Linked DNA regions of Homo sapiens. The protein of the gene in region 2 purifies or fractionates together with the protein of the main gene of each other region. This does not show direct contact. Each region holds a gene or a part of one and is shown on either strand. Other genes may lie near its edges.

The links.
Region 1: the proteins of ZDHHC6 (region 2) and TAF7L purify together in Homo sapiens (co-immunoprecipitation; one large-scale study listed by IntAct). This does not show direct contact.
Region 3: the proteins of ZDHHC6 (region 2) and SH3GLB2 purify together in Homo sapiens (affinity purification with mass spectrometry; one large-scale study listed by BioGRID and IntAct). This does not show direct contact.
Region 4: the proteins of ZDHHC6 (region 2) and A2ML1 purify together in Homo sapiens (affinity purification with mass spectrometry; one large-scale study listed by BioGRID and IntAct). This does not show direct contact.
Region 5: the proteins of ZDHHC6 (region 2) and SDR9C7 purify together in Homo sapiens (affinity purification with mass spectrometry; one large-scale study listed by BioGRID and IntAct). This does not show direct contact.
Region 6: the proteins of ZDHHC6 (region 2) and TMEM169 purify together in Homo sapiens (co-immunoprecipitation; one large-scale study listed by IntAct). This does not show direct contact.
Region 7: the proteins of ZDHHC6 (region 2) and IMPA2 purify together in Homo sapiens (affinity purification with mass spectrometry; one large-scale study listed by BioGRID and IntAct). This does not show direct contact.

What each region holds. Positions count from the first base shown.
Region 1 is NC_000023.11:101,277,835-101,281,334, forward strand, and holds part of TAF7L (transcription initiation factor TFIID subunit 7-like), read right to left. Parts: intron 1,202-3,500; coding exon 1,160-1,201; intron 288-1,159; coding exon 215-287; intron 1-214. UniProt on the Homo sapiens protein: Probably functions as a spermatogenesis-specific component of the DNA-binding general transcription factor complex TFIID, a multimeric protein complex that plays a central role in mediating promoter responses to various activators and repressors.
Region 2 is NC_000010.11:112,429,915-112,433,414, reverse strand, and holds the end of ZDHHC6 (palmitoyltransferase ZDHHC6), read left to right. Parts: intron 1-133; coding exon 134-175; intron 176-893; coding exon 894-1,039; intron 1,040-1,128; coding exon 1,129-1,175; intron 1,176-2,507; coding exon 2,508-2,611; 3' UTR 2,612-3,115; downstream 3,116-3,500. UniProt on the Homo sapiens protein: Endoplasmic reticulum palmitoyl acyltransferase that mediates palmitoylation of proteins such as AMFR, CALX, ITPR1 and TFRC.
Region 3 is NC_000009.12:129,018,332-129,021,831, reverse strand, and holds part of SH3GLB2 (endophilin-B2), read left to right. Parts: intron 1-612; coding exon 613-741; intron 742-3,500.
Region 4 is NC_000012.12:8,850,121-8,853,620, forward strand, and holds part of A2ML1 (alpha-2-macroglobulin-like protein 1 isoform 1 precursor), read left to right. Parts: intron 1-39; coding exon 40-154; intron 155-1,663; coding exon 1,664-1,892; intron 1,893-2,089; coding exon 2,090-2,216; intron 2,217-3,500. UniProt on the Homo sapiens protein: Is able to inhibit all four classes of proteinases by a unique 'trapping' mechanism. This protein has a peptide stretch, called the 'bait region' which contains specific cleavage sites for different proteinases.
Region 5 is NC_000012.12:56,924,409-56,927,908, reverse strand, and holds part of SDR9C7 (short-chain dehydrogenase/reductase family 9C member 7), read left to right. Parts: intron 1-3,500. UniProt on the Homo sapiens protein: Plays a crucial role in the formation of the epidermal permeability barrier.
Region 6 is NC_000002.12:216,095,419-216,098,918, forward strand, and holds part of TMEM169 (transmembrane protein 169), read left to right. Parts: intron 1-419; 5' UTR 420-545; coding exon 546-816; intron 817-3,500.
Region 7 is NC_000018.10:12,005,507-12,009,006, reverse strand, and holds part of IMPA2 (inositol monophosphatase 2), read right to left. Parts: intron 670-3,500; exon of another isoform or gene 598-669; coding exon of another isoform or gene 416-597; intron 1-415. UniProt on the Homo sapiens protein: Phosphatase that can use myo-inositol monophosphates, myo-inositol 1,4-diphosphate, scyllo-inositol-1,4-diphosphate, glucose-1-phosphate, beta-glycerophosphate and 2'-AMP as substrates in vitro.

The DNA.
Region 1 (3,500 bases), on a different chromosome or scaffold from region 2:
GTATTGGAATTCCTAGTTTGGAGAAGTGCCTCATATTGAATTACACAATAAATAATTTTCTATTACATGAATTTACTGTTCCTAGCTAGAACATTTCAAAGAATCTTAAGTTCCACACATCAAGACTGGCACACAAACACCAGAGGTGAGGCTTCGTCAGCATGTACAAATGGGGCAGAACAGACTATGCAGAAAATATTTGTATAAAGGATACGGGTACTTACGGCTTCAGCATCCGAACGCAGCAGTCTCTTTACTTCATTTTCCACGTCTGGAGATTCAATGTACTGAAGCAAAGTTGGGGATTAGAGGGGGATACCAATACTGTCATTTAACACCCTGTGTGTTGCAGGAGTGCCCTCCTACGTACCAACGAATTCAAATGTTAGGCCTCTTTAAATTCTGATCCAACCAAATTTCTACTTTAAGTAGTGCTATTTATAAAGGAATCTTTAGCCAGGGTCTAGAATTTTGTACAGTAAACTTACTTTTTTCCTAATTAAACAAATTACTTGAGACATTTAATCTTTTCAATCTGCAGCTCTATGGTAAAGCCCTCTCTCAGAGGTGCAACCCTTAGGTCTCAGTTATAAATTATTTCTCCTGATTTATATTGGCAAAGAACTATAATTCCTTATTAGTTATTTAGAAATAATTTGGTTTAAAGATCCAAATTCCCAGATTTCACTTCCCCACATCTTTATTATTAGAGACGTTCCTATAAAAACTGGATCTTAGCTGCATGTTCTCCCTTGAATCCAGTTTTACATAATTATCTCCACAGCAACCAATTTGTTGTGCCACAAATAGAAATTAGGATTTTGATGGGGAATAAGCAATTGCAAACAACTGCTGTTAAAAGTGAGCTCTGGCTCCCAAGGAATGGCTTTTGAAATAAATATCAGAATAAAAAGAGCAGATTAGAATACACGGGGTCACTGGCCAAATTGTATCTTTTCCTCTAGCAGTTATCAAACATCAAACAATGAATTCATTTTTTAGTGAATCAAACCCAGTGTATGTGTTTAGGATGAGGGTTAGAGGTGAGAAGGAAGGCTCAAAAGTAGCTTCTGTGGTTTATTTGATTCATTTGAAACTAATGAGCTATTAAATAAAACACATTAAGGGTAAAAATGAAGTTATATTATGATTGCTCTACCTCAGTAAAGCTGCTTTTTTCCATTTCTTTGACATCAGGGACCTATGAAATAAAACACAATAAACAAGTTATATTATGATACCTATATTTCAGTAAAGCTTAAAGAGCTCTACAACTATCCTTAACTTAGTTTTACATTTAGTAGGCACTCAATAAATGTTGATTTACAGAGTATAAAAGCCAAGGCAACTGTGTTCATGGATTGGAAGACTCAATATAGTAAAAATGTCAGTTCTCCCCAAATTGATCTACAAGTTTAATGTAATTCCTGCCAAAATTCTAGCAAGGTTTTCTATAGCTATAGACAAGCTTATTCTAAAATTTATATTAAAAGATACAGGCTTTTGGCCAGGCGTGGTGGCTCATGCCTGTAATCTCAGCACTTTGGGAGGCCAAGGCGGGCGGATCACGTGAGGTCAGGAGTTCGAGACCAGCCTGGCCAACATGGTGAAACCCGTCTCTACTAAAAATACAAAAATTAGCCGGGCATGGTGGCCCATGCCTGTAATCCTGGCTACTTGGGAGGCTGAGGCATGAGAGTCGCTTGAACCCGGGAGGCAGAGACTGCAGTGAGCAGAGATCGTGCCATTGCACTCCAGCCTGGGCAACAGAGCGAGACTCCATCTCAAAAAATAAATAAATAAATAAATAAATAAAGATATGGACTCTAGAATGGCTAAACAATATTGACAAAGAAAAGTAAAGTCAGAGCAATCAGCCTTCTAATTTCAGGACCAATTATATAGCGACACTGTGATATTGGTGGAGGGATTGACAGATGGATCAGTGGAGGAGAATGGAGAACCCAGAAACAGACCCATAAAACCAAGCCCAACTGATATTTCACAAAGGTGCAAAAGCAATACAACAGAGGAAGAATAGCCTTTTCAACAAATAGTGCGAGAGCAATTAGACATCCTTTGGCAAGAAAAGCAAAAACAAACAAACAAACAAAAACAAAACAACAACAACAACAAAAAAAAAACCTTGAACTAAACCTCATAGCTTTTACAAAAATTAAGTCGAAAATGGGCATCAGGCTTAAAAAGATGTAAAAAAAAAAAAAAAGCAGGAGAAAATCTTCAGGATCTGGGCTAGGCAAAGAGTTCTTAGATTTACTATAAAAAGCAAGATCGTTTTCAAAAAAATCAATATATTGTACTTCATCAAAACTAAAAACTTTTGCTCTCTGAAAGACCCTACGAAGAGGATGGAAAGACAAGCTACAGACTGGGAGAATATATTTGCAAACTACATATCTGATAAAACACTGGTAGTATTTAAAATATAAAAAGAACTCTCAAAATTCAATAATAAAAAATCAATTTAGAAAATAGGCAAAAGGCATGAGCAGACATTTCGCTGAAGTGGAATAGATGGCACATGAGATGCTCAACCCCGTTAACCATCAGGGAAATGTAAATTAATACTACAATGGGATCACTATGCACCTATCAGAATGGCTAAAATGAAAAATAGTGACAACACCTAATGCTGGTGAGGAGGTGGAGAAACTGGATCATTCATACATTATTGGCAGGAATATAAAATGGTACAGTCACTCTGGAAAACAGGTCATTTCTTACAAAACTAAACATGTGACTACCATATGACCCAGCAATTATACTCCTGGACATTTATTCCAAAGAAATGAATACTTATATTCACACAAAAACCTGTTCACAGCTTTATTTATAATAGTCAAAACCTGTAAACAACCCAGATGTCCTTCAAAGGGAGAACAGTTATGTAATGTGGTACATTCATACCATGGAATACTACTCAGCAATAAAAAATAAACTATTGATGCTACAAAAACTTATATGGATCTTAAGTGAATTATGCTGAATGAAAAAATAAGCTAGTCTCTGATGTTATATACTATATAATTCCATTAATATTAAATTTTTGAAATGACAAAATTACAGAGATAGAGATCAGATTAGTGATTACCAAGTGTCAGAGACTGGGGTGTGAGGTGGAAGGGAAGTGGGCATGGTTATATAAAAGCAAAATGAGGGATCCTTGTGATGAAACTGTTTTGTATTTTGACTGTGTAGACAGATACATGAACTTACACATGGGATAAAACTGCATAGAACTAAACACATGCACAAAAATACACGAGTACAAGTAAAACTGGAGAAATTGGAATAAGATTGCAGAATTCTAATCATGTCAATTACCTGTTTGTGGTATTGTACTATAGTTTTGCAAAATGGGGAAAATGGCGAAAGGGTACACGATATCTCTCTTTTATTTCTTACAACTGTATATGAATTTACAATTATTTCAAAATAACATGTTTAATTTTAAACAAAAGAAGAAGCCAAGCCACAAT
Region 2 (3,500 bases):
TTAAATTATCAGCAACTTGAAATGCTGGAAAATTGGGGTTTTGCCATATCACTCTGACAGTTGATGAGGAAAGGCGATTTTTCAACATTGAGACAAGAGACTTCATTTTTTTCTTTTTATTTCTTCCAAACAGATAGAACAGTTGAAACAAAAAGCAGATAAGAGAGTCAGAAGTGTAAGTACTTCTTTTGCAGTGGTAATTTTTTTTTCTTTTGTTAGGCTCTGTACTTCCATACAGTTTTTTTAATTGACTGACTAGAAACCAATTGTTGGCCTTTATTAAATAGTATTCCTTAATACATTTGTTGAAATTTGATGCAGTTAACTTTTGTTTTTATTTAAATAATTGGGACTAGAGGTTGGGAGGAATTTAGTCCATTTATATTGCCAACATAGGAAAATAATTATCCTCAATACAGCTCCTTAATGTGAAACCTATCCTTACAACTATGTTGTTGGATATGATGGCCACCAGCCACATGTGGCTGTTTTATTTAAATTTGTTAAAATTAAATCAATTTAAAAATTCAGTTTCTTGTTTGCATTCACTACATTGTAAGTGCTCACTCAGTAGCTACATGTGTCAAGTGCTGCTGCATTGGATACTACACATACAGAACATTTCCATCATGGCAGAATGTTCTTAGCCCTGCTCTAACTCTAATTCTTAGCTATGGGCTTGAAAAGAGGAGTAAGAAAAGCCTTGAGAACTAGAAACATTAGTTGCCTCCCAGGGAACTAGGTGGATGGGGAACTGGGAGGTTCCCCTAGAAGGGGAACTAGAAGGCTTGTCACTGGATATTTTGGATCTTGCTTTAAAATTTGAAATTCAGACTTAAAACTCAGATATCATGGGTGAATATTTAAAGGTTTCTTCTGATCACTGACGACAGGTTCGCTATAAAGTAATAGAAGATTATAGTGGTGCCTGCTGCCCTCTGAATAAAGGAATCAAAACCTTCTTCACAAGTCCCTGCACCGAAGAGCCTCGAATACAGCTGCAAAAAGGGGAATTCATTTTAGCCACAAGAGGTTTACGGTAAGTAATAGGAAGTACTGCATTTCTTCTTCAAGGACAAAATTAATATCTAGCCTAAAAAATTAATTTTCATCTTTTAAATATTTCAGATACTGGTTATATGGAGACAAAATTCTTGATGATTCCTTTATAGAAGGTATGGAAATGGAAGGGCATGTTTAAAGGACAAGACTATTAGCAATAATTCCAAATTTTACAAGAATAACTTTTATAAACCAATCATGCCTAATGCATTAGGGGAACTGCATAGAAGGGTATATCACTAAGCAACAAAAGGAACTTCCTTATATATTTCTCTATAGCTCTTGTATTTTTCAGGTCTTTTTAATGATAGCTAACATTTGAGCTCATAACTATGCGAAAAGTACTTGTATAAGTGCTACCCTTAAGGTGTAGAAGTCCCCAAAATACTTCGGAGGTAGGCACTATTATTTATATTTGATTGAGGGAACTGAAGCACAGAGAGGCAACTTGCCCATAGCTATGCACTGAAAACAGATGGAGCTAGGGCTTAACCCCAAGCAGTCTGACTCCAGATTCTATGCACCAAACCCCTGTACTATTTGCTGCCCCCACTTTGAGCATTTCTCTTAAGTTGTTATAAAAACCAGTAGATTGAAACTTTGTGTTTTTTTTTTTCTTAAGTTTTATAATTGTTTCTTTTTAAAGTAAAGATTAGCTCGGGATGTTCTTTAAAAAATAGTTGGGGTTAATCATAAATTAACCTCTTATGACGGCCGTGATATAGAAATGTATATGTTAGGCCAGGTGTGGTGACTCATGCCTGTAATCCCAGGACTTTGGGAGACCAAGGCAGATGGATCACCTGAGGTCAGGAGTTCAAGATCAGCCTGGCCAACATGGTGAAACCCTATCTCTACTAAAAATACAAAAATTAGCCGGGCATGGTGGTGTGTGCCTGTAATCCCAGCTGCTCCAGAGGCTGAGGCAGGAGAATTGCTTGAACCCGGGAGGCAGAGGTTGCAGTAATCTGAGATCGTGCCACTGCACTACAGCCTAGGTGACAGAGCAAGACTCCATCTCAAAAAAAAAAAAGAAAGAAATATATATGTTAGAAAAAGTCTAAAAAGGAAATTTACAAAGACTACAAGAAGATAGTTCCCTGGAAAAGACAGTGTGATGGTGTGCCAAAAACACCTTTCCTGATCATACACATATAAGTAAACACCCATACCGAGTTCCCCCTGACTCTAGTTAGGAGCTGTCTTTAACCACATTAGTCCCTATTCGGGATCATCAAATTTGGGAAATACCTGTTCCTAGCTTGTTATGAACATTTAAAAATCTTATTTTTTTCCCCTTCAAACTGTGCTTATAATAGATAGCAAAGTGGGGAATAAAAGTCTAACTACAAGCTTATTAATTTGAAGTAATAGGACTTACTGCTTTCAGTAATGTCACTGTCATCCATCAGACTATTTCACCTCAATTTCATTTTCTCCCTCAGGTGTTTCAAGAATAAGGGGTTGGTTCCCTAGAAAATGTGTGGAAAAGTGTCCCTGTGATGCTGAAACAGATCAAGCCCCAGAGGGGGAGAAGAAAAATAGATAGCTGCTGTTAAAACAAAATTATCCTTTAAGTCTGCTTAATTACTTGAAAATTGTACATATTACTAAAGAATTATGCAATGAGCCTACTCTGGTTAAGATGTTCTTTTCCTCAAAGGTGCCCTAGTGCCATGATTTAAATATTTTTATTACCATTTTGAAATGGAGAAGCCATTCTGCATATGCCTTTGAATTCCTGCCCCTCTTTACCACCTCTTCCTCCCCCTCAAAGGAAAAACATTTCATCCAAGTAAGTTAACGGCATTTTCTGTAGGATTTTCTTATGCACTGCACACTCTGGACCTCACCTGCAGATACAGTTCCCCCCTTGCCAGGAGCATCTGCATGTGGTACTTCTCTTTTCCCTCAGTTGATATTTCTTATATGATATTCTAGATACTATAGAACTCAATTTGTCAGATTCAGTATAACCTCAGATTTTGTTACCTGTCTTTTAAAAATGCAGATTTTGTCAAATCAAATAAAGATCAATGGATGTTGGGTATAATCAGTTTTTACTTAAAGCATTTTTCTTTTTGCTGACTAAAAAGGTTCATCTTAGTTCCTTATGGAAAAACTGCTCTGCTGCCCTGTGGACAACTGGCATCTTAAAACGTGGCTTAAGACATGACACACTTGCTTCAAGATATTAACCCTATTAATGGGATATTGCGGTCATAGTGATGGCAGCGGATGGCAGTGGTGGCCTGAGGGGTGTTGAGGGGGAGCCGTGATAGGCAGGAGCCAAGCGTAGCTACAGCTGTCCAGCCGTGGCTGCGGACCCGGGCATCCTTGTGCTCTAGGGGGCCGAGGGGAAATACCCCCCCCACACCCCCCCCCCAACAACTGCTTGGCCTCTTCCTGCTCCTGGCACTCGCTCTGGAGCAAAGGTG
Region 3 (3,500 bases), on a different chromosome or scaffold from region 2:
ACATGCCACCACGCCCAGCTAATTTTTGTATTTTTAGTAGAGAAGGGGTTTCACCATGTTGGCCAGGCTGGTCTTGAACTCCTGACCTCAAATGATCCACCCGCCTTGGCCTCCCAAAGTGCTGGGATTATAGGCAGGAGCCACCGTGTCCGTCCCAACCTGGTCACTTTCAAGAGGTCAGCAAGGCCCAGAGATGAAGGGACTGCCCGGAGCACACCCAGGCAGGCCCCCAAGGTCAAGCAGAAGCGACCTGCAGGACTTCCGGGGAAAGGAGGGTGGCTCCGGGTCGTGCTGTGTGTCTGCCTGTAAATCTGCTCTGTGGCTCATTGAGGGGCCAGATAACTTTTGGGTGCCAGGAGCAGAGAATTGTGCAAGCATGTATTATGGTCTGTAATCATATTAATAAGGGAGAAGTGGACGGGCCCTGGCTTCCTCCTCTGTATAGTGCTGGGTCAATCACAACAGTCTCAGGGTTGGGCATGAGCAAGAGCGTATTCTGGAAGTCAGCAGGCCAGGTGCACCTGTGGGCAGGGCCGGGTCTGGGTCTGTTTCTGTTTCATTTTTGGGCTTGAACTAAGGAGCCCTGTGGCTTTGGCTGCTGTCTCCCCACAGGTGCCCGAGTGGAGGAGTTCCTGTATGAGAAGCTGGACAGGAAGGTCCCCTCAAGGGTCACCAACGGGGAGCTGCTGGCTCAGTACATGGCAGACGCGGCCAGTGAGCTGGGGCCGACCACCCCCTATGGTGAGCAGGCCTCACAGCCAGGGACTAGGGGTCATGGTCTTTAGCTCTGATTCTCCCTCCCTCCCTTCCTTTTTTTTACTTAAAAAAATAATTATACAAATAATACCTGAATTCATTCTAAATGTAAAAACTCTACGCAGAAAAAAAGAGTAAAAAATGGAATCTTCTCTTAACCAGTTTTGGTTTGTGTGTGTGTGTGTGTTTTGTTTTTGTTTTTTTTTGAGATGGAGTCTCGCTCTGTCGCCCAGGCTAGAGTGCAGTGGCGTGATCTCGGCTCACTGCAAGCTCCACCTCCTGGGTTCCCGCCGTTCTCCTGCCTCAGCCTCCCAAGTAGCTGGGACTACAGGCGCCCGTGACCACGCCTGGCTAATTTTTTTTGTATTTTTTAGTAGAGACGAGGTTTCACCATGTTAGCCAGGATGGTCTCGATCTCCTGACCTCGTGATCTGCCCGCCTATGCCTCGAAAACTGCTGGGATTACAGGCGTGAGCCACCGCGCCCGGCCTATTTTTTTTTTTTTGAGACACAGTTTCACTCCATCACCCAGGCTGGAGTGCGGTGGTGCGATCTCAGCTCACTGCAACGCCCCTGCCTCCCAGGTTCAAGTGATTCTCCTGCCTCAGCCTCCCGAGTAGCTGGGACTACAGGAGCCCGCCACCACACCCAGCTAATTTTTGTGTTTTTAGTAGAGGCAGGGTTTCACCATGTTGACCAGGCTGTTCTCAAACTCCTGACCTCAAGTGATCCGCCTGCCTCAGCCTCCCAAAGTGCTGGGATTACAGGTGTGAGCCACCGCACCTGGCCTATTTGTGTGTATTTTTTAATGGAATCATATTGTGTGCTATCTGGGAACCTGACTTTTTTTTTTTTTTTTTTTTTTTTTTGGAGATGGAGTTTTGCTCTGTTGTCCGGGCTGGAGTGCAGTGGCGCAATCTCAGCTCACTGCAACCTCCGCCTCCTGGGTTCAAGCAATTCTCCTGCCTCAGCCTCCCAAGTAGCTGGGATTCCATGTGCCCACCAGCACACCTGGCTAACTTTTTTGTATTTTTAGTAGAGACGGTGTTTTACCATGTTGGCCAGGCTGGTTTCCAACTCCTGACCTCAAGTGATCTGCCCGCCATGGCCTCCCAAAGTGCTGGGATTACGGGCATGAGCCACCGCACCCGGCTGGAACCTGACTTTTTAACTTGACATCATATTACAGGTATCTTTTCACTGAAGCATTTATAGAACCATATCCATCTTTTTTTTTTCATTTTAAAATTTTATCCAAGTATAAGCTATATATTATGTGTTTAAGTGTATAATTCAATGATTTTTAGTAAATTTACAGAGTTGTACAAACATCTCCACAATCTAACTTTTTTTTTTTTTTTTTTTTTGAGGCAGAGTCTCACTCTGTCACCCAGGCTGGAGTGCGGTGGCGCAATCTCAGCTCACTGCAACCTCTGCCTCCTGGGTTCAAGCATCCCGGGTCCTCCCTCAGCTACCCAAGGAGCTAGGATTGCACACGCCCACCACCACTCCCAGCTAATTTTTGTATTTTTAGCAGAGACCGGGTTTCACCATGTTATCCAGGCAGGTCTCGATCTCCTGACCTCCGGTGATCCACCCGCCTCAGCCTCCCAAAGTGCTGGGATAACAGGCGTGAGCAACTGCGCCCAGCCAAACTTATTTATTTTTTATTTTCTGTTACCTTTTTTGAGACAGGGTCTGGCTCTGTCCCCCAGGCTGGATTGCAGTGGTGCAATCTCAGCTCACTGCAACCTCTGCCTTTTGGGCTGAAGGCATCCTTCCACCTCAGCCTCCTGATTAGCTGGGATTACAGGTGTCCACCACCATGCCCTTCTAATTTTTATATTTTTCTGTAGAGATGGGGATCTCGCTATGTTGCCCAGGCTGATCTCAAACTCCTAAGCTGAAGTGACCTCCCACCTTGGCCTCCCAAAGTGCTGGGATTACAGGAGTGTGCCACCGTGCCCGGCCCACAGTCTAATTTAAAGAACATTTCCATCACACCCCAAAAGTCCTTCATGTCTATTGTCAAGCCCCATTTTCACCTCCAGCCAGCCAACCACTAACGTGTTTTCGGTCCCTATAAGTTCATTTTTTCTGAACATTTTATATAAATGGAATCATATGACATGTTGTTTCTTGCATTTAGCTGCTTTTACCTAACATAATTTTTTTTTTTTTTTTGAGATGGAGTCTCACTCTGTCACCCAGGCTGGAGTGCAGTGGCACAATCTCGACTCACTGCAAGCTCCTCCTCCCGGGTTCATGCCATTCTCCTGCCTCAGCCTCCCGAGTAGCTGGACTACAGGCGCCTGCCACCACGCTCGGCTAATTTTTTGTATTTTTAGTAGAGATGAGGTTTCACCATCTTGGCCAGGCTGGTCTTGAACTCCTGACCTCGTGATCCACCCGCCTCGGCCTCCCAAAGTGCTGGGATTACAGGCATAGCCACTGTGCCTGGCCTCAGGTAAATTTAACTTAACTCTTTTTTTTTTTTTTGAGACGGAGTCTCTCTCTGTCACCTAGGCTGGAGTGCAGTGGCGCAATCTTGGCTCACTGCAACCTCCGCCTCCTGGGTTCAAGCAATTCTCTTGCCTCAGCCTTCCAAGTCGCTGGGATTACAGGCACCCGCCACCATGCCCAGCTAATTTTTTGTGTTTTTAGTAGAGACGGGGTCTCACCATGTTGGCCAGGCTGGTCTTGAACTCCTGACCTTGTGATCCGCCCGCCTTGGCCTCCCAAAG
Region 4 (3,500 bases), on a different chromosome or scaffold from region 2:
TCCTGTTTCCTAAAGTTTTCGTATTCTCAATTTCATCAGCAGGCGGTGGTCATCCAGAGGCTTTTGAGTCATCAACTCCTTTACATCAAGCAGAGGATTCTCAGGTCCGCCAGTACTTCCCAGAGACCTGGCTCTGGGATCTGTTTCCTATTGGGTAAGTGATGACTCAAAAGTACAGTAAAGGGCCAGGTGCATGGCTCACGCCTGTAATCCCAACACTTTGGGAGGCTTAGGAGGGAGGATCACTTGAGACCAGGAGTTCAAGACCAGCCTGGGCAACATAATGAGCTTCTGTCTCTACAAAAGAAATTAAAAAAATAGCCAGATGGTAGTTGTGTCCTACTTGGAAGGCTGAGGTGGAAGGATCACTTGAGTCTGGGAGGTGGAGGCTGCAGTGAAGCAAGATCACATTGCTTCACTCCTGCTTGGGTGACAGAGCAAAACCCTTCTCAAAATCAACAACGACAACGACAACAACAAACCCAGAAAAAAAACAGTAAGATTCTGCAATGTAGAGCCTGTAGAAAACTCAGAATCAGACGCATTCCTAATGGATCTAAATCTTAAGCAAAGAAAGCTTGATGGGGTGTGGGAATTTATTTATTTTCCGGAATTCTTTTTTTCTTTTTATTTTTAAGACAGAGTCTTGCTCTGTCACCCAGGCTGGAGTGCAGTGGCATGATTTTGGCTCACTGTAGGCCTCAACCTCCTAGGTTCAAGCAATTCTTGTGCCTCAGCCTCCCAAGTAGCTGGGACTATAGGCACATGCCACCACACCTGGCTAAGTTTTGTATTTTTAGTAGAGGCAGGGTTTTGCTATGTTGGCCAGGCTAGTCTTGAACTCCTGGCCTCAAGTGATCCACCCGCCTTGGCCTCCCAAAGTGTTGGGATTACAGGTGTGAGCCACTGCGCCCGGCCTACCTGAATTCTTCATGCATTCATATACAACCACTCAAAACAAATCCACACAATTCCACACTCACACATTGCAGGCCCTGTGTTCTCACTACAGAACCACACACATTTAAAGGTATATATTGACATCAATTTTTGCTCACTGCTTGCATATCCATTTTGACAAGCCCTGAGACCACACATCCTCAGACTCAGAGGGCACCAGCCTCTCTGTCAGATGTGCTTGCACAGAGATGCCCACCCCGACTCCCCACCATAGTCCCCCTCCTCCGTATGAGTGCAGCCTCACTCACACTGAGACTCACCTGTTCAGTTGCCTCTTTACTTCTCCCCATACAATAACAATAACAATTTTACTTCTGCAGATGAATTTGTAGCTTTTTTTTTTTGGACAGGGTCTTGCCCTGTCACCCAGGCTGGAGTGCAGTGGTGCAATCATAGCTCACTGCAGCCTCAAACTCCTGGGCTCAAGCAATCCTCCTGCCTCAGCCTCCTAAGTAGCTGGGACTATAGGCATGCACCACCACACCTGGCTAATTTTTAAATTTTTGGTAGAAATAGGGTCTTGCTATGTTTCCCAGGCTGGCCTCAAACTGCTGGGCTGAAGCTATCTGCTCACCTCAGCCTCTCAAAGAGCTGGGATTACAAGTGTAAGCCAGCACACCCCACCGAATTTGTGGCTTAATTCACAAATGTTCTCCTTGCCCCACGCTACCTCTGCCTCATGTTGGTCCTTGTGTTTTCACAGTAACTCGGGGAAGGAGGCGGTCCACGTCACAGTTCCTGACGCCATCACCGAGTGGAAGGCGATGAGTTTCTGCACTTCCCAGTCAAGAGGCTTCGGGCTTTCACCCACTGTTGGACTAACTGCTTTCAAGCCGTTCTTTGTTGACCTGACTCTCCCTTACTCAGTAGTCCGTGGGGAATCCTTTCGTCTTACTGCCACCATCTTCAATTACCTAAAGGATTGCATCAGGGTGAGAGCTGGGGATACAGGAATCAGGTGTCAGCCCTGGAATCACACCTCCCCCATAAGTTTGTCTCTAAATTGGAAGCATCCCAATTTTCCCTGGGAAAGAGAGGAGATGTCGGCGTCTCAGCCCCCAGGTTTCCCCAGGCCTCTATGCACTACCTCCTTTGTTTGTACCCTTTGTCTCTTAAACATCCTCCGTAGGTTCAGACTGACCTGGCTAAATCGCATGAGTACCAGCTAGAATCATGGGCAGATTCTCAGACCTCCAGTTGTCTCTGTGCTGATGACGCAAAAACCCACCACTGGAACATCACAGCTGTCAAATTGGGTAAGAGAGGGAAGTGGTAGACGGGCGAGGAAAGCCAGCAGCAGAAGACCAGTGACTGAGCACTCAGTCTTTTCCTCTGCCACATCTGCTTTGCTTCCTCCTCCATTTTCCACTATTTTTCTCCCTCCTAAGGCTGTTATAAGTCAATACACAAACACTCTTTGATAGGTGACCAAACAAATTTGTTCAAACCGGAATATTTTGAGTGTGAAAGGGAGAGCTTTTAATATTTATAGCTGGACAAGGAATACATGGTCATGTAACTAATCAAGGACTTACTATAAGAGTCCCTGGGCCAGGCACTATTCTAACTGCTTTACATATATTAACTCATTAAATTGATTGACTAATTAATTTTTATTTTATTTATTTATTTTTGAGAGGAAGTCTCGCTCTGTTGCGCAGGCTGGAGTGCAGTGGTGCAATCTGTGCTTACTGCAACCTCCACCTCCTGGGTTCAAGTGATTCTCCTGCCAAGCCTCCCAAGTAGCTAGGATTACAGTCGCGTGCCACCCTACCCGGCTAATTTTTGTACTTTTAGTAGAGGTGGGGTTTTGCCATGTTGGCCAGGCTGGTCTCAAACTCCTGACCTCAGGTGACCTGCCTGCCTCGGCCTCCCAAAGTGCTGGGATTACAGGCGTGAGCCGCTGCGCCTGGCCTTTTATTTTTTTTTAGAGAGACAAGATCTTACTCTGTCACCTAAGCTGGAGTACAGTGGTGTGGTCATTGCTCACTGCAGCCTCAACCTCCCAGGCTCAAGCGATCCTCTCACCTAGGCCTCCGGAGTAGCTGGGACTATAGGCTCATGCCACCACCATGCCTGGCTAATTCAGTTGGCAGAGAAGCGGTCTTGCTCTGTTGCCCAGGCTGTTCTCAAACTCCTGGGTTCAAGTGATTCTCCCGCCTCACCCTTCCAAAGTACTGGGATTACAAGAATGAGTCACTGCACCTTTAACTTGTTTAATCCTCACCCCCAACCCTATGGGATGTCAGTCACTCATAGATTAAATCCTTGCAACTCAAAGTTTGATTTTCATATGTATGAGTTATCTCATGTTGCTTGACAAATTATTGTAAAACTTAAGTGTCATAAAAGGACAAACATTATCAAACAGATTCTATGGGTCATTAATCTGGGTGCAGCTTAGCTGGGTACCTCTGGCTCAAGGTATCTCATGAGGTTGCAATCAAGCTGTCAGTCAGGACTCTGGTTTCATCTGAAGACTCGACTAGGAGAGGATTGATTTTTCAAGCTCATCCCAAAGTCTCTGATCCTTACAGGCT
Region 5 (3,500 bases), on a different chromosome or scaffold from region 2:
GAATTTCTTGCCTCACCTGACTAAAAAGTTGAGCAAGATAAGCTTCAGGTACAACCTGACCCAGACTGCAAATGATGTTGCTAGGACCTGGTTCCACCCATTTCTTGGCTCTGCTTCTTTTGCACTGACTCCAGTCTCTAAGCTCTCTCCCCTGTGGGAGCCACATTGCTGCAGCCTCTCTTCACCTCCACCTAGGGTGAGGTCTGCTGGGAAAATAGGAGAGTTATTTCCAGTACCTCTCCCAAAAGTCCTAATGTACACTCCGACTTGGAGGACCTTATGGTGACCGCGTCATGGGGGACCACAAGATGCACCCAACCCTAAACCAATCACTGCGCCCAGGGGAATGTGAAGGTGTGATTGGCTCAGGCTGGGCTGTGTGCTCTGCCCAGACCAATGGACACAGTGTGGGGGAGGCATAGGTCCCCAGAGGGAAATCTGCAGCTGTTGGGAACAAGGAGAGAAGATGTTAGCATGTGTGGGGAAGAATATTTATCCTCTGTGTGATCATTCTTAGCAAAGAGTAGTTCAAATTATTTGTGGAGCTGCTTGGAGGCTGGGGTGAAATGGGTTCAGCCAGTGTCTGGAAACCTCACAAAGTCATTTTCTAAGTAAGCACTCAGGGTGAAGAGAGCTTGTAGCATCTTTAGTGTGGTCCATGAAAGAATATGTATAAAGGCAAACTCCTCCGAAAACCTTGTCCAAAAGCTAGTATTGTACTAAAGAATAGTAAGGATTGGGTTTATAAAATATCTTAGGCCAATTCACCTGTAGTCCACACCATAATTTCAGAGGAAAATTTTCAGGCAGTGGTCAACTACATTTAGATAAACGTTTTCCCAAGTGGTTATACTAGAATTTTTGCTTCAGTTGCCCAGTGTTTATTGGGATTCAGAGATGAGACACTCTCCAGGAAACTAGCAGGGAAGATGTGAAAGCAAATACACCACCACATGAAGAATCTTGCTATAATGGACATGCATACAAAACAAAGCAGCAATGCAGACTTCATTCTGCTGTCACAGAAGCCTTACAGAGGTGACAGTTAATGCCTTAGTGAGTTTTGAAGGATGAATAGGAGTACACCAAAAGGGAAAGAGATGGCGGATGTTTCACACAAGAGGAAGGGTGTGAGCAACGTTTTAGTGACCTGACATAGCATTGTATGCTTTTGGAGGCAGTGCAGATTCAGGCTTGTATTCCAGCAGTCCCTCTAATCATGTTGTATAGCTCTCCAAACTTGTTTATCCATTTATAAAGTACAATTCCTCTCTCATGGATTGTTAGGAGAATTAAACAGAAATGCAAAGTACTCAGCTCTGCTACAGTAAGAGCTGAACAAACCTTTGCCATTGCCATTATAGTCTGGCAGGAGTGCTGTGGGTGATGATTGAGGAGGGGAGAGATTAGGAGTCAGATCATGAAATGCTTTGATTGCTATAGTAGGGAGCATGGCTCTTATCCTAAAGGCATTAGAGAGCCTTGTAAATGGCTCTGAAATGAAGGATCAGATTTGTGTCACCGTGGGAAGGATAAAAAGTCCACCTGGGGGACTACTGCAGAAACCCAGTGAAGGAACGATAAAGACATGAAGTTGTAAGTCCTGATGGTTCTGGTGGTGGGGGGTGGCTATGTGACAGACAGAAGAGATATTTAGGAGTAGTCCTAGAGCATCGCTGGGTACAAACTCAGCCAGTTGCTGTGACTGACCAAACAGGCCCCTGGCTTGTAACCCCTAGGACCAGGCCTGATACTTTATAGATTTTGTCCTGCTTAATTCTCCCAATAACAAAAACATTTTCCCAGGTGCCCAGCTCCAAAGCCTATGTCCTTCCTCACTGTGAAGGAGAGTGACAAAGCTGGATGGGTCCTTCCGTCTCCCATCCTACTCCATGCCTAGCAGGGTGCCCAGCACTGAATGGCAGCTAATATCTATTTGAGAAAACAATGAAAGCAAGTGCCTCATACCATTCCCCATGTCTGGGGTAACTTCTCCCACCCCACTGCCTGTGCAAGCCCTCCCCACCTCTCAGAACCCAGTCCCCAGCCCATCTCACCATGTCAGCTTGCTCCACATCCTCAGCCCACAAAGCTTTCCCTGGCGCCGAGGGGGCAGAGAGAGCCTCCTGGGCATCCTGAACGATTCCTTCGACCCTCAGCCCTGCTGCTGGTGGCCTCTGTGCCAGCTCTACGGTCAGAGGTCAGGGTGTGGCTTCCTAAGACATTACTGCTTTATGGACAGTCTGGCTTTGAGTTAGTGTGGCTCTTGTTGAGATCCCAAAATATAGTTTGGCTTTTCCCCTGCATCAGTTTTCTTTCCAGGAAACAGAAAATGGAGTTTCTCGGAGTCTGGGGTGAAGGGGACTGAAGTGATGCTGCCCCATTCTCACCAACCACCCACAAGGGTCCTGGCCCCAAGCGGGTGAATTCCTTGCCTGCCTGGACCATTCTCAAAGTCAGGGCAGCTTTGGCTTCCTCTCCATTTTCAAGTTTTCATACCTTATCAGGGCAGTCTGACTTTGAAGCATCATTTTCCCTGGAGTCCTCAGGGCTCTCAATGAAGCATGAATCCCCCTGTCCTGGGGTGAGGATGCAGATGAGGGCCTGGTGGGTGTGTGGTGTGGCCCTTCTCCCATTTATGTCATGAACTTTGGCAGACTTGTACTATTTGGGTGCTCTGTCCCCATCTCCACCCCTGTGGGTCAATGCAAACAGAACAACTCCTCACATTTGTGAGGGCCCCACGAGGTGCTTGTCTATGCCTTAGATTATTTGAGTGACAGTGGCCTTATGACTGAGGTAGGGGCAGTATTACTATTTTTAAATAATATTTTCTCCTGCATGTTTTTGTTTAAATGTGGGAACTCTAGGAAGTACATAGAAGAAAAAAAAAAGGGCTGTTTTCCCATCATGTTTGCTCTTCTGTACTCCCCCAGTGTCTACCCTGCTGTTAATCATCTTTGTTATTCTCCAGGACAGATATTTTTTGAGATGGAGTCTCACTCTGTTGCCCAGGCTGGAATGCAGTGGCGCGATCTTGGGTCACTGCAACCTCCCACTCCTGAGTTCAAGTGATTGTCATGCCTCAGCCTCCTGAGTAGCTGCGATTATAGGCACGCGCCACCACGCTCACCTAATTTTTGTATTTTTAGTAGAGACAAGGTGTCACCATGTTGGCCAGGCTGGTCTCAAACTCCTGACCTCAGGTGATTGGCCTGGCTTGGCATCCCAAAGTACTGGGATTACAGGCCTGAGCCACTATGCCCAAACTTTAGGAAAGATAGTATTATCTCCATTTTATAGACAATAAAAGTTTAAGCTCAAAGTCATATAACTAATAAGCGGCACAGTTATAAGGAGAATGTGCACAGTTCTTCTCATCACCAGTCTAATGCAATAGTAGGACTTCAATGCACAATTGTTGAATTCAGAAAGATAAATAAGACTATTTGTTTATTTATTTATTTATTTATTTATTTTGAGACAGCGTGTCATTCTGT
Region 6 (3,500 bases), on a different chromosome or scaffold from region 2:
AAGGCTTCCTCACCCAACTTCCTTATACTCTGCATGCTCCAACTAGAGGCTGATTTATACACAAAAATCGGTAACACAAGCAGACTATGCTAACTACTTATGTATATAAAATAAAGAAACAATAATTGTTGACTTTCATATGAATAAGGAAAATGCAAATTATGACAACAATGAGATATAGTATTCCTTCACATGGGTTTTGCCAAATATTATATGTTTGTATAAATGACAAAAATATTACTGTAGCAAAAGTTTATTCACTGTCTATTATAAGAGATTTAGATTGCATTCCCAAAATAAAGTATTGCAAGAAGTAAAGGGAGAGGAAGGCTTCTGCTAAGTTGAGGATCGTTTCCCACATTCCTGTCCATCTCACCCCATTTGCTTCCTGTTGATGGCTTTGCTTTCCTATCTTTCAGGTGGAATGCATCCTTGGGACATCTTTGCATAGCCCCATCTAGGAAGAAGTTCTGTGATGTGTGAACTGTGAGTTTACTCAAACAAGTCCAACTCTTTATAAGACATAGGTAGACGTCAGGTCTGGAATGGAAGAGCCAACAGCAGTAGAAGGCCAGGTCCAGCTTCCAAGCCCCCACCAGGGCTCTCTCAGGAAGGCTGTGGCTGCTGCCCTGGCGCTGGATGGGGAATCCACAATGGGGCACAGGAAAAAGAAGAGGAAAGAGTCACGCCCAGAATCCATCATCATCTACCGCTCAGACAATGAGAAAACAGATGAGGAGCCCGGAGAATCAGAAGGTGGAGATCAGCCTAAAGAGGAGGAGGGAGATGATTTCCTAGACTATCCTGTGGATGATGGTAAGTCTCTCTAGCCCACTTGTTTAAAGCCATGGGAAGGAAACCAAAAGGGCATCTTCCAGAACAGACAGGCATATGCTCACTGTCCTATTTCTTCTTGGTGATACATTTCTTCTTGCAATATTACCACCTTTTATTTATTTATTTTGAGACAGAGTCTTGTTCTGTCACCCAGGCTGGAGTGCAGTGGCATGATGTCGCCTCACTGCAACTTCCACCTTCTGGGTTCAAGTGACTTTCCTGCCTCAGCCTCCTGAGTAGCTGGGACTACAGGCATGTGCCACCATGCCGGGCTAGTTTTTGTATTTTTAGTAGAGACTGGGTTTCACCATGTTGTCCAGGTTGGTCTCGAACTCCTGGCCTCAAGTGATCCACCTGCCTCAGCCTCCCAAAGTGCTGGGATTATAGGCATGAGCCACTGACCTGGTGCAATATTACAGTCTTCATTCAACAAATGGTCAGTATTTACTGAGCACCTATTACATTTTTTTCTAGATGATACAGAAATCTCCACCCTTTCAGAATTCCTAATGAAATGGAAGAGGCTGATTTATACGCAAAAACTGGTAACACAAGCAGACTATGCTAACTACTTAATGTATGTAAAATAAACAATAATTGTTGACTTTCATATGAATAAAGAAAATTATGAGAAAATTTGCCAGAAGAAAATCATATGGCAAATTATGACAACAATGAGATATAGTATTCCTTCACATGTAGGCTTGCCAAAAATTGGGTAAAATGTGATTACATCAATATGAGCAAATGGATATACTTCATGCACCTTAGTGAAAGTGGAAGCCGCTTCAACCACTTTGTGGAGGAAACTTGTCAACGTTTATTAAATATTTAGTAAAATTCACAGTTCAAAACATGCATACCTCATGACCCAGAAATTCTCAATATCTACTCCATGAAACTTATGCCCATGTTATCCTTGTATAAGGAGGCATATATAAGAACATTTGTTGAAGCTAATGCAACCATGATGTGTTTGTATTAAGAATTATTGTGGAGGCTGGGCACGGTGGCTCACACCTATAATCCCAGCACTTTGTGAGGCCAAGGCAGGCAGATCACGTGGGGTCAGGACTTTGAGACCAACAACAGGAGTTTGAGACTGGCCAACATGGTGAAACCCCGTCTCTACTAAAAATACAAAAATTAGCAGGGTGTGCTGGGGCATGCCTGAGGTCCCAGCTACTTCAAAGGCCGAGGCACAAGAATTGCTTTAACCTGGGAGGTGGAGAATCTGTGTTTCTAGAATGCAGAGGTTGCAGCAAGTCGAAATCCTGCCACTGCACTCCAGCCTGGGTGACAGAGCAAGACAACATCTCGAAAAAATAATAATAATTATTATTATTGTGCAGCCGTAGAGAGATGAGGCAGATCTATTTGTGTAGATGGATAGATCTCTAAGACATATGCTCACAGTGAACAAGATAAGCAATTTCTCTGCTCTCCTGCAGTTGACCTTCAGGGAAAGACAGATAGTGAACAAGTCAACAAATAAAAGATACTTTCAGGTAGTAGTATGAGTTCTAAAGATGACAAAACCATGCTGATGGGAAGATGAGTACTGGTGGAGGGTGGAAGGTGGTGGGGGAGAGACTGCATGGTTGTGAAAGGCTTCTCTGAGGAGGTGACATTTGAATTGATCCAAATGACATGAGGGAGCCACCATGAAAAGTTCTAGGGCAGAGTTTTTGGAGGAGGTGGAACAGCAAGGGCAAAGCCTCTGAGGTGAGAGCAGCTTTGGCCCATTTATGGAAAGGAGTTATTTCAGTGTAGGGAGTGTAGGAGATAAGAGGGAGGATGGTGAGAGGAGGACAGGAAGGTAGGCAGAGGCTGGATCATGGTGGCCCTTGCAGGTCTCGGTAAAGAGTTTGATATTTGTTTCAAGTGCAAGAGGAAGTCAATGGAGGACTTTTAAGCAAAGAGACATCATCTTGTTTATATTTGTAAAAGATCACTCTGGCTTCTCTATAAAGAATGAATTATAAGGGTTAAGACTGGATGCTGATGGGAGACTATTGTGTCCCTGCAGCCTCAGTAGCACTAATGGAGAAGTTCGGGTGATAGCAGGAGAAAGCTGGAGAAGAGAAGCTGGATTCAGGATGCAATCTGAACTTGCTGATTGATCAGAGGCAGGGAGTGAGGGAAAGAGAGGAATCAATAATGACTCCTGGGTGATTGACTGGAATGACAGGGAGGATAGATGGTGGTGGTGTTTGCTGTGATGAAGACTGTGAAAAGACAGGGCTTGGGAGACTGCACATTCCTTTTCTCTGGGTAAACAGAGTCCCTGCCACTATCCAGGGCCCTGCTCTTTAGGTGGCTTCATCTTATCTCTCAGTTGTGGGGCAAGGAGTCCACAGGGCCCAAGGTCCATGCCTGCCTAAAGGCTGTATTTTCCCATCCCCACCCAGACTTCTAGGGTGGCCAGCAGATAGCTATTTGGTTCTGTGTGGGTGCGTTGTGTGTGTGTGTGTGTGTGTATGTGTGGTGTGCGGTGTGGGTGTGGTGTATGTGGGGGTGTGTGCGCTGTTTGTGTGTGTCGTATGGTGTGTGTGTGTAATGTGTGGTGTGTGTGTGGATAGGCGTGGGTGGTATGGTATGGGGGAGTATATGGTGTACGTATGTGTGCGTGGTATGTATGTGGTATGTGTAGTGTGGTATGT
Region 7 (3,500 bases), on a different chromosome or scaffold from region 2:
ATGTGCCCTGTGCAGGCTCCACTCCTCCATGTGGCCTGCTTGACACATTCCTGCTAGAGGGACATGGGCGGCCTGCTCCTGCACTCTGCAGCAGGCCCTGGGCTGGCCCCTCCTTTGTAATGAGTCCCTCTGCAAACAAGGCCCCCTACAATCCTCACTTGAGTGTGCGTCTGTCCTGCTAGGAACCTGACCGAGACAATGTTCTCTCAAGATTCACCTGCACAGAAGGGAACTCCTGGTTTTCTCTACTTGCCTCTACCTCCACGAATGGCAACTCCCAGCACCCCCTGCTCAGGCCAAAAACAAGGGAAAGCACTCTCGCCCCATGCACTGTCACCCTTCCTCCTGCACCCCACCCACACGCAGGCCCACACACACAGGGAAGATGCTGTGGTCAGGTGTATTCGCAGCCCACCTTCTGCAGGCTGGTCCCTGTGGAGCTGGCCGCTGTTTACACCTTCCAAAGGCATTCTCAGGATCAAAGAAAAGACTAGATCTAAAGCATTCAGGGCAGTGCTTTTGACACTCTTGGACTGTCCCAAGTTCACTAAGGGTGAGGCCTTGGGCAGGCGCTAAGCAAACATCTGTTCTGTGCATGACTATGTGGCCTTGCCGAGAGGTTTTCTATCCAGTTCCTGTGCCGGGTTCACATGTGTACTAGAGAAAAAGGAGACCTGCAGAGAGTAAGAAAAAGAAAATAAGTGAAAAACAAGCAAGGCGCGGTGGCTCACGCCTGTAATCCCAGCACTGTGGGAGGCCAAGGCGGGCAGATCACCTGAGGTCAGGAGTTCGAGATCAGCCTGGCCAGCATGGTGAAACCCTGTCTCTACTAAAAATACAAAAATTAGCTGGGCGTGGTGGTGGGCGCCTGTACTCCCAGCTACTTGAGAGACTGAGAGAGGAGAATTGCTTGAACCCAGGAGGTGGAGGTTGCAGTGAGCCGGAGGTTGCAGTGATCCTAACGTTGCAGTGAGCTGAGATCACACCGCTGCACTCCAGCCTGGGAGAGTGAGACTCCATCTCAAAAAGAAAAAAAAAGAAAAAGAAATAAAAATACAAAAATTAGCTGGGGGTGGTGGCGCACGCCTATAATCCCAGCTGCTTGGGAGTCTGAGGCAGGAGAATCGCTTGAACCCAGGACGGGAGGGATGCAGTGAGCCGAGATCATGCCATTGCACTCCAGCCGGGGTGACAAGAGTGAGATTCCATCTCAAAAAAAAGAAAAGAAAGAAAAGAAAAAGAAAAGAAAGAAGGAAGGGAAGGAAGGAAGGAGAGAGAGAGAAATAAAGAAGGGAAGGAGGGAAGAAAGGAAAGAAAGGAAAGAAAGGAAAGAAAGAAAGAAAGAAAGAAAGAAAGAAAGAAAGAAAGAAAGAAAGAAGAAAGAAAAAGAAAGAAAGAAAGAGAAAGAAAGAAAGAAAAGAAAAGAAAGAAAAGAAGGAAAGAAAGAAAGAAGCGTCCCATGTTCTGGTGTTTGGTGTATTATCCACTGTGGTCATCAGCCTCCTGGAAGCCACTTTCCCCGCACGAACCATGTGGTCTAAGATTTGGCATCAATGAACTTTTGGATAAGGCTGGAGACTTGAGTGTGAATGGAAAGACTGAAATGAAAACCTCTGTGACCGCTCAGCGCCTTACAGTAGCCAGTCACCGCATATGGCTGCTTACATTTGAATTAAATAAAGACTTCAGTTCTTCAGTCTCATGAGCCACCTTTCAAGTGCTTGGCAGTCACGTGGGTGAGCGGCTACCACTGTGGACACAGCAGATGTGGGCCACCCCTGCAGCAACAGACAGAGCCGCTGGCAGTGCTGTCCTCCCACCGAGATGCTGAGAGGCAACAGCAGGCATCTCATGGTATTCGATGTCACTTTTTTTTGGAGACAGAGTCTCGCCCTGTCGCCCAGGCTGGAGTGCAATGGCGCGATCTCAGCTCACTGCAACCTCTGCCTCCCGGGTTCAAGCAATTCTCCTGCCTCAGCCTCATGAGTAGCTGGGATTACAGGCGTGCGCCACACGCCTGGCTAATTTTTTTTATCTTTAGTAGAGATGGGGTTTCACCATGCTGGCCGGGCTGGTCTTGAACTCCTGATCTCGTGATACGCCCACCTCAGGCTCCCAAAGTGCTGGGATTGCAGGCGTGAGCCACCACGCCTGGCCCGATGTCACTTTTCTATGCACGGGAGCTGCCATACACACTGTAACCACCCTGGTCCCCATCCACTCTGGGACCATCCTTCCACTGCTGGGTTATGAAGTTCATGCCTGGGATGCAGAGTCATCCAGCCCCTCCATTTTGCTGATAAATTATCTAGAAATACAACCCTGGGATACGACAAGTGCACGCATACATCATCTCAGGCTGTGCGACCTCCTCCCCGGCCCCCTGGAGAAACCCACGAATAAGCAGGGGCTTCTGAGCCAAGAAGACCAGGTCAAGTCAAGCCAGGAGCACTAAGCAAGACACCCAAGGAATCATCAGCTGTTCCTGGAGAGCCTGGGCAGGCTCAGTCTGCCCCTGGAGCTTTCAGCCTAGCCAGGCAAGGCAGATGAGATGCAGTGAACCCAGGCTTCTGGTTCTTCATCTACACTGCACGCCTTGCTCCTTGCAGGAACTGCCTCTCCACTCTCAGTTGTCCACATGCTTCTAGGTCAGGTGATGCACAGGCCCACCAGCCAGAGCCCCTGCTCAGGAACTGGTGCTCCCCAAACAGATCTAGGAGGAAAAATGGTGGGTAGAAGCCACAATGGCAGCCGGGGCAGGGGGTGGAGAGGCTGCCTCCTGACAACAGCAGCCTGCAGGAGACACACAGGTGATGATTCCACTTAGGGCGTGATCATAAGTGCTGTCAGCACTGCCAGTTTTCCTAGAAACTTCAGGCACTAAATCTGTTTTTCCATGTCTTCTGTAGCTATGTGACTTTCCTCTTCTGTAATGGCTTGCAATGACGTTTTTAAAGAAAACGCTCCACACCCTGAAAACACACATACAAGGAGCAACTACGAAAGCTTAAACTGGGCACAAGGTTGACAAAGCAGCGAACAGATATGACTCAGGTCCAGAGGGACTAGAAATGACTCAGGCACAAAGGTAAGTTTCTAAGAAACTGAGGAGGAATGTGCAATTCTTCTCCTTTTTAAACCTGACTTCAAGTAGGAAACTGAAGCGGTGGAAAGAAAACTGCCAGTGAGCCCTGAAGGAGGAGGCAGTGTGGGTCTGCAGGCACTGACACTCCACACCCAGGACAACTCACGCTGCAGCACCCAGACCACCCACGCGGCATGCCCACGTGCCTCCCAGGACACTCGGGAGCAGGAGCTCTGTCTGTTCATTCGCCAGATGCGTGGGACACCCTTTAGGGAAGTCACCAAGCAGCTTGTTTTCCCAGCAGCAACTATTAATATAAGTTAATTTGTTAACAAAGCTTCTGCTGTGTGTAACCTTTATTATTTATCTATTTGTTTTTTAGGTTTCATTTAGTGTAACCCAGCAAGTACTTTTA